2 separate regions of the Homo sapiens genome follow, and region 2 is linked to region 1. Evidence: fine-mapped expression QTL. Tissue or cell type: lung. Region 1 holds a variant in brackets; the other region holds the start of a gene. All regions are shown on one strand. Distances are between the middles of the regions. Region 1 overlaps ANGPT4 (angiopoietin 4). Region 2 holds the start of ANGPT4 (angiopoietin 4).

Region 1 (5,370 bases):
CAGGCCCAGAGGAGGCCTTGACCCTACTCAGGGTCAGAGATCAAGGTAAGATGACTGGGGCTACGAACCAGCCTGGCCAGCCACAGGCCCTCAGTGCCCACTCAGTCACCCTCTGTTACCTGAGCCTCCATGTCGGTCAGCTTGCGGATCTGGGCAGTGGTCTGGTTCAGGAGGCTGGTGCCCAGCTCTAGCATGGGGGCCGTCTGATTCTGGGCCATTTGCTGCTGGACCTGCTCCAGCTTCGACCTCAAGATCGTCTTGATGGCCCTCTCTAGCTGTGGGAGACCATGGGCTGGGGTCACGGGGGAGGGGCGGGGGAAGCCCCCTGTCCCTCCCACGTGTCACCATGGGAGGGCACTGAGCAGCCACTTGAGGCCTCCCTGGCTCAGAACATGCCGGGCCAGGTCAGGCCACCATTACGTCTTGCCTGGACTATCCCAGTAGATTTTTCCCTGGGAGGGATTTATATGCCTGTTTTGTCTGCCTCTCTGCTTCCATCTTTGTCCCCTGCACAGTCCATCCCCCACTAGGCAGCCAGAGGGATCCTGCTAAACCTAAGTCAAGTCACACTCCTCCTTTGCTCAAAATCTTTCCAGGGTTCCTATCTCACGCAGAGGAAAAGCCATGACTGCAGGTTCCTCCGTGACTGGGCCTGCCACCACACTCTCATTCCTCTCCTATTCCCCTCTCCCTCACTCACTTCAATCCCGATGCAATGGCTCCATGACATCCCTCTAACGAAGCAAGCATGTGCCCACAGCTGTTCCCTCACTGTTCCCTCTGGAATCCTCCCCCAACCCTGATCCGCATCTGCGTGGCACACCTCCTCATGCTGTTTCAGCTTTCTTCATACCACTTATCACCACCTGACTTTTTAAAATCACTATCTCTCTTTTTATCTGTCTGTTGTCTGTTTCTCTCTCTAGAATGTCAATTCCATGAAGCCAGGGACTTGGTTTTGCTCACTGCCTTGTTTCTATGTTTAGCACAATGCATGGTGCACAGTGAGTGCTCATAAATGCGCGTTCAATGAATTGATGAAAAAGGGGAAACAGCAAGGGTCAGAGCACAGCGCCCAATCACATGCCCCTTCACCAGCTTCCTCAGGGTGAGTCAGCCAGCAGGGAGTGGGAATGCATCTCTCCCTTGTACAAAGAGTTTGCAGGTCCATTGGCCAAGCTGTGTTTTCTATCTTCAGATCCCCTCTATCTGCCAAATGGGGCTGGACTGGCCAGTCTCCAAGGGTTCTCCCAGCTCTGATGTTCTGGGATCCCACATGCAAATGTTCATTTCTTTGACAGGGCTGCTCTCTTTCCCAAGGGCAGGAGAGCTGGTCTGGCATGACACCAGTATGCTGTTGTAAAGGTGAACAGTGTGTTCTCAGGGCTCGGTGCCTGCAGGCAGAGAGCCAGCTCCCCTCCACCATTGCCTCTCCATTCGGCACACATGCTGGCCTCTCACCATGCCCCCCACCCCTGTCCCTGGCTCCTTCCCTTGCCCTCTCACTCAGTCTTTCAGAAGCCAGCTGGACAGCTCTCAGGGTCCTTGGGAAGATGGGTGCTCCCCAGGAGAGGTGGTGACCTTGGCTCGGGCCAGGCTCCAGCCACTTCCTCCTTCATCTCTTCTCCCTTCTTCCATCTTGACTGTTCACTCCCATCCCTTCCTCACCCTGGAGTGTTTCAAAGGGAGCAAGTTCCATTATCACATCCTGGAGCGGGTGCTTGTGGGCGGTAGTAGTACTGGTTAGAGCTGTGTTTCTCCAAGTGTGGTTCTTCCGTCAGCATCAGCTGAGCTCATTAAAAATGTGAATTTCCAGGTCCCACCGCAGACCTCCTGAACCAGAAACTCTTAATGGTGCCCAGCCAACTGTGGTTAACAACACCCCTGGCTGAGTCAGATGCCTGCTCAAGTGTGAGAGCCCTTGATGCAGAGTAGCAGCAGGGACTGAAGACCAGAGAGACCCCCCTCCTTCTTTCCCTGCATCATCAGCCCACCCCCTCCCTGCAGCACACAAACATGCGCTAACAGCTTCCATCTAAAAACTAACTCCACAGCCTCTCTGGCTGCTTCTCCAGTTTCTCTGATCTCATCAACACAAAACTTCTACAAGTTGTCTCCATTTTCTCACCTTCATACCCACCCTCACTTAAAAAACAACAACAACAACATAACGTTAATAATAAAATGATGTTACGTTTCACACATACAAAAAAGCATAGAGGCCAGGTGCGGTGGCTCACACCTATAATCCCAGTACTTTGGAAGGCTAAGGAGAGTGGATCATTTGAGCCCAGGAGTTTGAGACCAGCCTGGGCAACATGGTGAAACTCCATCTCTACTAAAAATACAAAAATTAGCCAGCCATGGTGGCATAAGCCTGTGGTCTTAGCTACCCAGGAGACTGAGGCAGGAGGATC[G/A]CTGGAGCCTGGGAGGTGGAGGTTGCGGTGAGCTGAGATGCACCACTGCACTCCAGCCTGGGTAACAGAGTGAGACCGTGTCTCAAAAAAAAAAAAAAAGTATAGAGAATAAATATAGCCCATAGTGCTCATCCTCCTGTATACCTCCAGTCATGTCTCTCCATCCTGGGAGGTCCCTTTGCCTTTTGGCGTCTCACTGTTGCCCAGGCTGGAGTGCAGTGATGTGATCACGGCTCACTGCAGCCTGAAACTACTGGCTTCAAACAATCCTCCCACCTCCCAAATAGCTGGGACGACAGGCGAGCACCACCACGCGCAGTTCCCCCCTTCGCTCTTTAATTCACCTTGTCATAGATAGCCCTCCTTGACACTGCCCTCAAGGGACACTCCATCTTGCTTGACATCTCAGGAGCAATCACCTGGATGGCCACTCCCTGTTGCTGGACGACTTCCCCCCAATCCTGGTTTCCTCCTAGCCCCTAACCACCCACTCTCTGACTCCTCCTTTACAGACTCCTACACGGCAGGGCCCCCATGGCCCAGTCCTGGGTCCTTGTCTCTATGTACATTCACTCTCTAGGTCAGGGGTCCTTAATGAAGAAGCCACAGGCTCCATGAACTTGAGTGAGAAAAAAAGATCACATTTTTTGTCCACTAATCTGCAATTAAAATTTGGCATTTCCTTCAATTATGAGCCTAGGTCACAAACCACAGCCATACTAGCAGGTCCTGAGAGTCATTACCAATAGAAATCCCAAATATTTTCATATCACAACACACTCTTACGGTATCTTAAAACATTGTTTTTACTCACCGGGACTTTGGAATTATAGACATCACACCCACCACTGGATAATGCTATGCCTGATCACAGATTTTATTTTTCATATTTTGCTTATGATTTCCATATTACTGAGTGTTCTTATGCTTTGATTTTATGCATTTCTGAGAAAGGATTATTAAGCTTCACCAGGACCAGATGCCAAGAGGTCTGAGGATCCAAATGCATCAGGGCCCTGCCCCAGGGGCTGAGATCGGTCTTTGGACTTCCACATCCCTCTGTGCTAATGGAGCCATCACCATCTCCCACCCAGACTTCTCCCCTGCATGTCCCCAACTCGCCATCTCTGCATGGTTTCCAATGAGCATCTCAAGCCCAGTGTGAAACTCTTCATTCCTCAGCTCCCATCGCCCCTGTCCCTGTAACTCCCACCCCATGCTTCGAAATCTTTCCCATCTCAGGAAATGGCTCCACCCAGTTCTGAAGCCCCAAACCCAGACCTCAATCTTAACTTCTCTTTTTCTTAGCGGCCACACTCAACCCACTAGTAAGTACTGCCCACTGTGATCCCAATTTGGATTTCAAATCTGTTTACTCGCCTTATTCTGGGCCAGGCTGCCCTCCTCTCCATGGGTCTGCCTTTTGTGCCTTCCTGTCTTTAACCCCTCTGTCAGCTCCCAGGAGATTCTTTTTTTTTTTTGCAGTTGCAAGATTTAATAGCATGAAATAGAGTGAAAACAGAGCTCCCATACAAAGGGAGGGGACCCAAAGGGGGTTGCTGTTGCTGGCTCGAATGCCTGGGTTTATATGCCAATCCTTGTCTCTCCCACTGTGCTCTCAGGCAATAGATGATTGGCTATTTCTTTACCTCCCATTTTTGCCTAATTAGCATTTTAGTGAGCTCTCTGATTGGTTGGGTGTGAGCTAAGTTGCAAGCCCCGTGTTTAAAGGTGGATGCGGTCACCTTCCCAGCTAGGCTTAGGGATTCTAAGTTGGCCTAGGAAATCCAGCTAGCCCTGTCTCTCAGTCCCCCTCTCAACAGGAAAACCCAAGTGCTGTTGGGGAGGTCAGCTGATGACCGCACTAACTGCTTCCTGCTGAATTAGGGAGTAGTAGGGGTGGTGCAGTTGAGATTTCCTCGGGAGGGGTGCCTTCGATGTCATTAACATCAGAGCATGGGCTAGCAGGCTGGTCCGGGGGTCCGTGGTAAATCTTAGTCATGGACTGCATGTGAGCTCCCAGGAGATTCTAATGTGTGGCTGGCTGGGCCCACCAGCATGGATGAGGACAAATATAGCTGTATCGAGTTTGGTCTCAGACTTTTTCATGCATCATTGACCTCCTAGAACCTAAATTAAAAAGCAGACATCCAGGTACTGAGCACCTGCTCCAAGTAGTCAAACAGCATATTCATGCCTGAGGTGAGACTTTCCCAGGCATCTTCCCCAAGCTTCTCATTTGCCTGAACATAGACAAACTGAGGCCCAGAAGTCTTGCCCAAGGTCACCATCTGGCAGGCTAGGCTCTAAGACTCCTTGCCTGAGGGCTGCAGAGCTGAGCTGGTGATTCAGGGCAGCTCAGGGTCCCCTCAAGTGACTGGAGCTCCCCAAGCACCTCACTGGTCCCCCACTTGTCCTGTGGTTGCAAGTGGCTGGGCAGGGCAAAGGTTACCCACAGCTGGATCCCATCACCCAGTTTGCCACACCCGCCCACCAGCACAGGCCCTGGGATGGATAATCTGGGCCAGATGGGCTCAGTTAGGCTGGGCTGGGCTCTGGAGACTAATATTGGCCTGGGTGGTGGGAGCTAGGTCTGGCCCATGGCTGAGGCACCAGCTGGAAGGGCAGGGAATGGATCCCAGTGGAGGAACTCACCCAGCGTGGGATCTACTTCTCTTGTTTTTTTGGATCTACTTCTCTCTATGCCGTGCACCGACTCCAGGATTAGACCTGCCCCTTCTCCATCACTCTCAGGCTGCCGAATTCTCAGGCCTATGATGGGGTACAAAGGCCTGACCTTTTGTCACCCTTCCAGCTGGCAAAGAGACTGAGTTTTGGTCCCTGGTCTACTGCCCCATCCCCTTGGCCCTGGGTTTGAGTTCTGGCTCTGCCACACTTTCATTGTGGGCCCTTGGAGACTACTGTGTTTCTCTGAGCCCCACTTTACAGATCT
Region 2 (5,370 bases), 24 kb after region 1:
GCTCTCAGCCAATGTTTCCCAAGCATCCGACACCCAGGGGATTCAAAGATGGATGAGAGTGAGAGGTGAGACTTGGGGTAGGAGGCCCAGTGGGAGGTGATGACAGCATCCTGGGAAAGATGACGAGGCCTAAGCCAGAAAGATGGACCATGAGAGAAGCCTAGGCCACAGGATGGGCTGGGCCAGCTGCCTGGGGGATAGGTGGGAGCCACAGGAAGCCCCCAGGGCACAGCCTGTGGCTGGGTGGTGGTGTCACCCTAAACAGAGACAGACAGGCAGGAGGAGGGTGTTTGGAGAAGAGCAGGGAGTCGTCTCAGGCAGCTTTGGAGTTGAGACACCCATGGACCCTCAGGGAGGTGTTGGGGGAGATCCAGGTCATGGGTTTTGGGCTCAGGATCCCATCAATGCCAATTTTGTGTCATCACGGAGCAGGATGGAGACCTGGGACCTGAGAGATTGGAAGGACATTTATGCATTCATGCATTCACTCATGCTACAGACATTTATTGAGTACCTACTGTGTGTTCGGCACTATTCTAGGCCCTGGGAACCCAGAAGTGAGCAAAAGAGACATGGCGCCTGCCCTCTGGGAGCTCACACACCAAAAGAAATGTTTTTAAGAACATTAGGTAGGGATAAGTTCTAAGAAAAAAAAACACAACAAAGCCAGCAGAGGGACAAAGGGTGGAAGAGGAAGGTGGTTATTTCGTACGGGGAGGACAAGGAGGGCCTCTGGGGAGATGGCGCTGGAGAGGATAGGAGGCTGGGGTAAGCAAAGTGGGAGTCTGGGAGAGGGAACTCCAGGGAGTAAGGGTTCTTGCTTTTATTCGGATGCATGGTTAGCCCTGGGAGGAGGGAGAGGATGTAACTTAGGTTTTGATGGGGATTCTTTGGTCTGCTGCATGGAGAACAGGAGGTGGGGGCCGAGTGTTAGCAGGGAGCCAGGGGGGCAGCCAGGACAGCTATCCTGCCTGGAGCCAGAGGTGGTTGTCAAGCTTGTCTGCTGTTTAATACCTTCTAAAACTCCAGGAATTAGTTCGCATCCTTCATTCCTCAGTCATCGCCCAGACTGTCTCCTGGGTCCCTCTCCCTTTCCTTGGTAGCTCTCACTTAGGGACTCTGAAGAGTCCCATCTCAGACCCCCCAGGATGTCTCCTGTACCCTCATGCCCCGCCAGGGCCAAGCCTGCTTTGCACACCTCTGTAGTCAGTGCTTCTCCGAGGGTACACAATAGGTGCTCACACTGCTGAAAGACGAAAGCATGACAGGGCATTCTACAGCAGCCCTGGTCTTGGGCCAAAACCACAGTGGCATCCTCAGCTCCTTGCTTCCTCCCACTCCGCATCCAATTCACCAGCAGAGCTGATGGGCTCTACCTCCAGAACCCACCAGAATCTTACTGGCCACACCCCCTCCTAGCCCCGTTCTGCTCCAGGCCTCCGGTACCTTGCACCTGATGGCTGCAGCGGCCACCTCTTTGGGCTTCTTCCTTCCACCCTGCCTCCTACAGTCTATGCTGTTGAAATCGAATCACGGGTGTCTGTCTCTGCTCACAACCTTGCAGTGGCTCCCATGACACTCAGAACAAAAGCTGAAGTCCTTCCAGTGGCCCCCCCCCCAGCTGCATGGCCTGCCCTGCTGTCACCTCTCAGACCTCCCCGCACCCTTGCTCCCTCTCCTCTGCTCCAGCTACACAGGCCTTCGCCCCATGGTTCTCCAGGCACACACCGCTGCGGATGCATTCCCTCCTCACGGTCAAAATACATGCAGCTCCCTTTGCAGAACGTTCCCTCAAATACCTGCCTGGCCCACTCTATCATTTCCCTTGTTCTCTGGGTTCAAATGTCACCTCCTCTGAGAAGTACTCTCTAATGATCTGACCTCAAGCAGCCACCCAGGGCCGCCACTTGCCCTCTTTCTTCTTCATTTTGCTTCACCATCTGACATAGTAGATTATCTCTTACTGCCTCTTTCCCCTACTAGTCCAGAGGGAGACATACTATACTGTCGTATCCCCAGCACCCAGGAAGGCTTGGTCCGTTCAGCCCTTGGTCAGGGCTGAATGGATTTCTGTTGGATGAATGAAGGGACGGCAGTTAAAGAGCCAGGTTGCCAGCTGACATTGCCCAATCTTGCTGTGTGGCCTCAGACCCACCCCTGCCCCTCTTTGTGCAGCTCAGAGACAGCCCTCTGTGCTCAGGGAAGGCCTCTTGGATGGACACTCCACCTGCTGATTGTGACAGACCCCAAAGCCGCCCTCTGCCCCCTGCAAACCTCCCATGCCCCGTACCTTCTTCAGCCACTGCGTGTTGTTCTGCAGTGCCTGCTCCAGCTGTTTCACCTGCTGGGTGGGCAACTTCCCCAGGTGCAGTGGGTTGGCCAGTGATTCTCTCTGGAGGGTGTTGGAGTCCCTGGAGACCTCAGGCCCCGGAGGGCAGGGCTCAGACTTGGGCAGCAAGAAGGTGTAGCTACAGTGGCCGTGCTGGACTACAAGTGTCTCGCAGCCCCTATCCGCCTCCTGCCTTGTCTGTTGAGCCACAGACATGGTGGCAACCACAAGGAGGAGGCTGCCCTGCAGCATGGCTAGCTGGGAGAGCATCTGAAGATGTGTCAATGGCGAGGGATGTCTGCTCAGAGCCCTAGGGGCTGTGCCTGGGATGTCCTGCTGCAGCCAACAGTGGCCAGGCTTGCCTGCAGCTGCAGCTACAAACCTCTGTCTGGCCGAGCTCTGTCCAGGCAGCTATTTATACTTGCTCTGAATACCACGGCTGCTCTGCTTGCTTCCTCTCACCGCCTCCCTCCGGCCCCACCCGACACCCTCTCACCTCTATTCTTCACTCCTTCCCTTCCTCCTTCCTCAGTCTTGGTGGCACGTCGCCCTTACCCTAAGCGTGCACCAACCTTGCTCTGTCTGCCTCACCTCTGAGCCCTCTGATTATCCAGTGAGGCCTGGCTTCCCTGCTGGAGGGGAGGGAAGAAAACAGCACACAGACACGCGCACACACTCATGCACACACTCACGAGCACACACTCACACGCACGCTGACACGCACACACATTCATGTACACACAAACGCCAAGCTCCAATGCTGCCCGCTTTGGAAAACCAAATGCAACTTAACTCTCCCTTCCTGTCTCTGTCTTGGTCTCCCTCTTTCCCTCCACCCCCATCCCCTGCCCCCCAAGTCTAAGATCTCAAGTTTCAGTCCCGCTGCCATCCCCTTCTCTCCCCGCTGCACCTTCCTCCCTCTGGTTCCATGTTAGCGCTTGGAGTACAAGTGACCCCCGGAGAGAGCAGAGGGAGGGGAGGAGGCAGAGGGGTGAGGCTGGGGAGGGCCCAGCGAATCCACTTTGCCTCTGGAGACACAGAAAATCCTTCCAAGGTGGGGCAAGTGAGCAACCCAGCTGGGAGTTGCTTCCTGTCCTCTCTTCTCCCTCAGGGCCAGGGGAAAGTGGTATGCCCCAGGATGGCCCTGGCTTGGTTGCTTGTAACAGTAATGAGAAGTTGTCATGTCCTGGGGCAGATTGTCCTGGGGCTGCTGGAGTGGGGATGTGGAGAGGAGGCAGTGGGGAGAGGAGGTTGGAGTGCCAGGAGGCTAACCCTAGATCTCGCTCCCCGACAGCTGGCCACGAGACCTAGGGTGGGCAGCTGTGCCTCTCTGGGCCTCCACACCCTGATCTGTAAACTGGGTAAACCTTATCTCTTGCAGGAGGAATGCGTGTGAGTCCTCAGCATGGGGATGGAGAAGTTTTCAGCTTCTGGGTTCAAATCCTGGCTCTACCATCTACCAGCTGTATGACTTTGAGTAAGTCACTTAACCTCTCTGTGCCTTCATTTCCTCCTGAATGAGGAAAATAATACCACCTACTTCACATGGCATGAAAATTAGGTGAGTTAGAGCAAGGTTGGCACAGAGCGAGCACTAAATAAATATTTTCCGTTGTCAATGTTATAGTTGTCATTGCACCTCCCCTCCCACGACCCACTGGAGCATAAACTCCTCTAGGGCAGGGATTTGTCCCTGGGGGACATGGTCTCCAGGCAGAAGGTGCCCAGGAGTTGGTGGGGCCTTTCCTGCATGGGCTGCCTTTATGTTCTGCCAGCTGTTTGGGCTTTTCCTCTCTCCCTGCTTGTTTCCTCAGAGTAGGGGCCAGTCTGGCTGTTTAGTATTTTCCTTTTTGTTCTCTCAAATCCCGATAGAGTTTTGAATTGGGGCAGGCTGCTTCTGGGCAGCTGTGAACTGTGGTCTCATCTGGGGACTGAGAACATTATACCAGGTGTGGGGCTTTTGCAGGCAAAGGAAAAGCAGCTGGTTATCAGCCTCCAGCCTCCCCTGAGCCTTCCCACATGCTCTGAGCTCTGCGTGCCCCGCTTGGCCCCAGTTGCCTCAGCTGTAAATGGGGTCATAGCACCCTGACCATGTGAGAGTAATGTGGACTGATAGCTTATCACAGCTCTGGGTGCAGAGAAGGGCAGTGTGAATGGTGGTCGTCATTATGATTGTCTTGACTGAGCTGCTTGATAATCCCAACGAGGCAGTTACACCAGGCCCCAAGCTTAGATGGGCCCCATGCTTGGTTTACACTCTGCCAGCACTGTCTTGAAATTCTTAATACATTTGGAACAAAGTACTCAGCACTTGCATTCTTCATTGAGTTCCACAAATTAGGTAGCAGGCCCTGCCTGGGAAACATGAGGCTTCCCTCATCCCTCACTCTGCTCCTGACCTTACCATCCAATCAGACCTGTTCTTCCAACATGATCCTTTAGATATTTCCCCCTCTGTCACCTCTTCACTACTCAGAATGCTGGAGCCAGCACATCTGGATCGGAATCTTGGCTTTCCTGACCCCCTATTTGTGTGCCTTTTGCCAAGTTGCCTAACCTGTCTCTCAGTTTCCTCTTCTGTCAAAATAGTGATGTTACAGTGGCTAAAAGACCGATTCCTGCAGTGAGGTTAACACAGAGCCTTTCACATAATACATGCTCAACCAGTGACAGCTGTCATCATTACTCCCTGCTATGATATGAATGTTTGTGTGCCCCCAAATTGATCTATTGAAACTTAGTCAACAAGGTGATGGTATTAGAAGGTGGGGCCTTTGGGAGTGAATAGCTCGTGAGGACTCTGCCTTGGGAATGAGATTAACGCTCCTATCAAACATGTCCTAGACAGCTGGCCTTCCCTTTTGCTAGGTGACGTTGCAGTAAGAAAGCACCGTCTATGAAGCAGGGAGCTCTCACCAGACACCAGATCGGCTGGTGCCTTGATCTTGGAATTCCCAGCCTCCAGAACTGTGAGAAATAAGTTTCTGTTGTTTATAAGCCCCCCAGCTTAGTGCATTTTGTTATAGCAACCTGAATGGGCT

What was found.
Region 2: it holds the start of ANGPT4, and the variant in region 1 is fine-mapped to the expression of ANGPT4 in lung (TOPMed, PIP 0.91).

Annotation. Positions count from the first base shown.
Region 1 is chr20:890,094-895,463 of GRCh38, forward strand. It overlaps ANGPT4 (angiopoietin 4), which reads right to left. Exons shown (of 9, transcript NM_015985.4): 2 at 120-275. Among named protein-coding and RNA genes, the nearest start is that of ANGPT4, 24 kb to the right of the region's middle. The variant G/A (reference allele first, on the strand shown) is at 2,418.
Region 2 is chr20:913,616-918,985 of GRCh38, forward strand. It overlaps ANGPT4 (angiopoietin 4), which reads right to left and starts at 2,719. Exons shown (of 9, transcript NM_015985.4): 1 at 2,291-2,719. The coding sequence starts at 2,599. It overlaps LOC105372492 (a long non-coding RNA gene), which reads left to right. Exons shown (of 3, transcript XR_937185.3): 1 at 1-65; 2 at 3,711-3,806.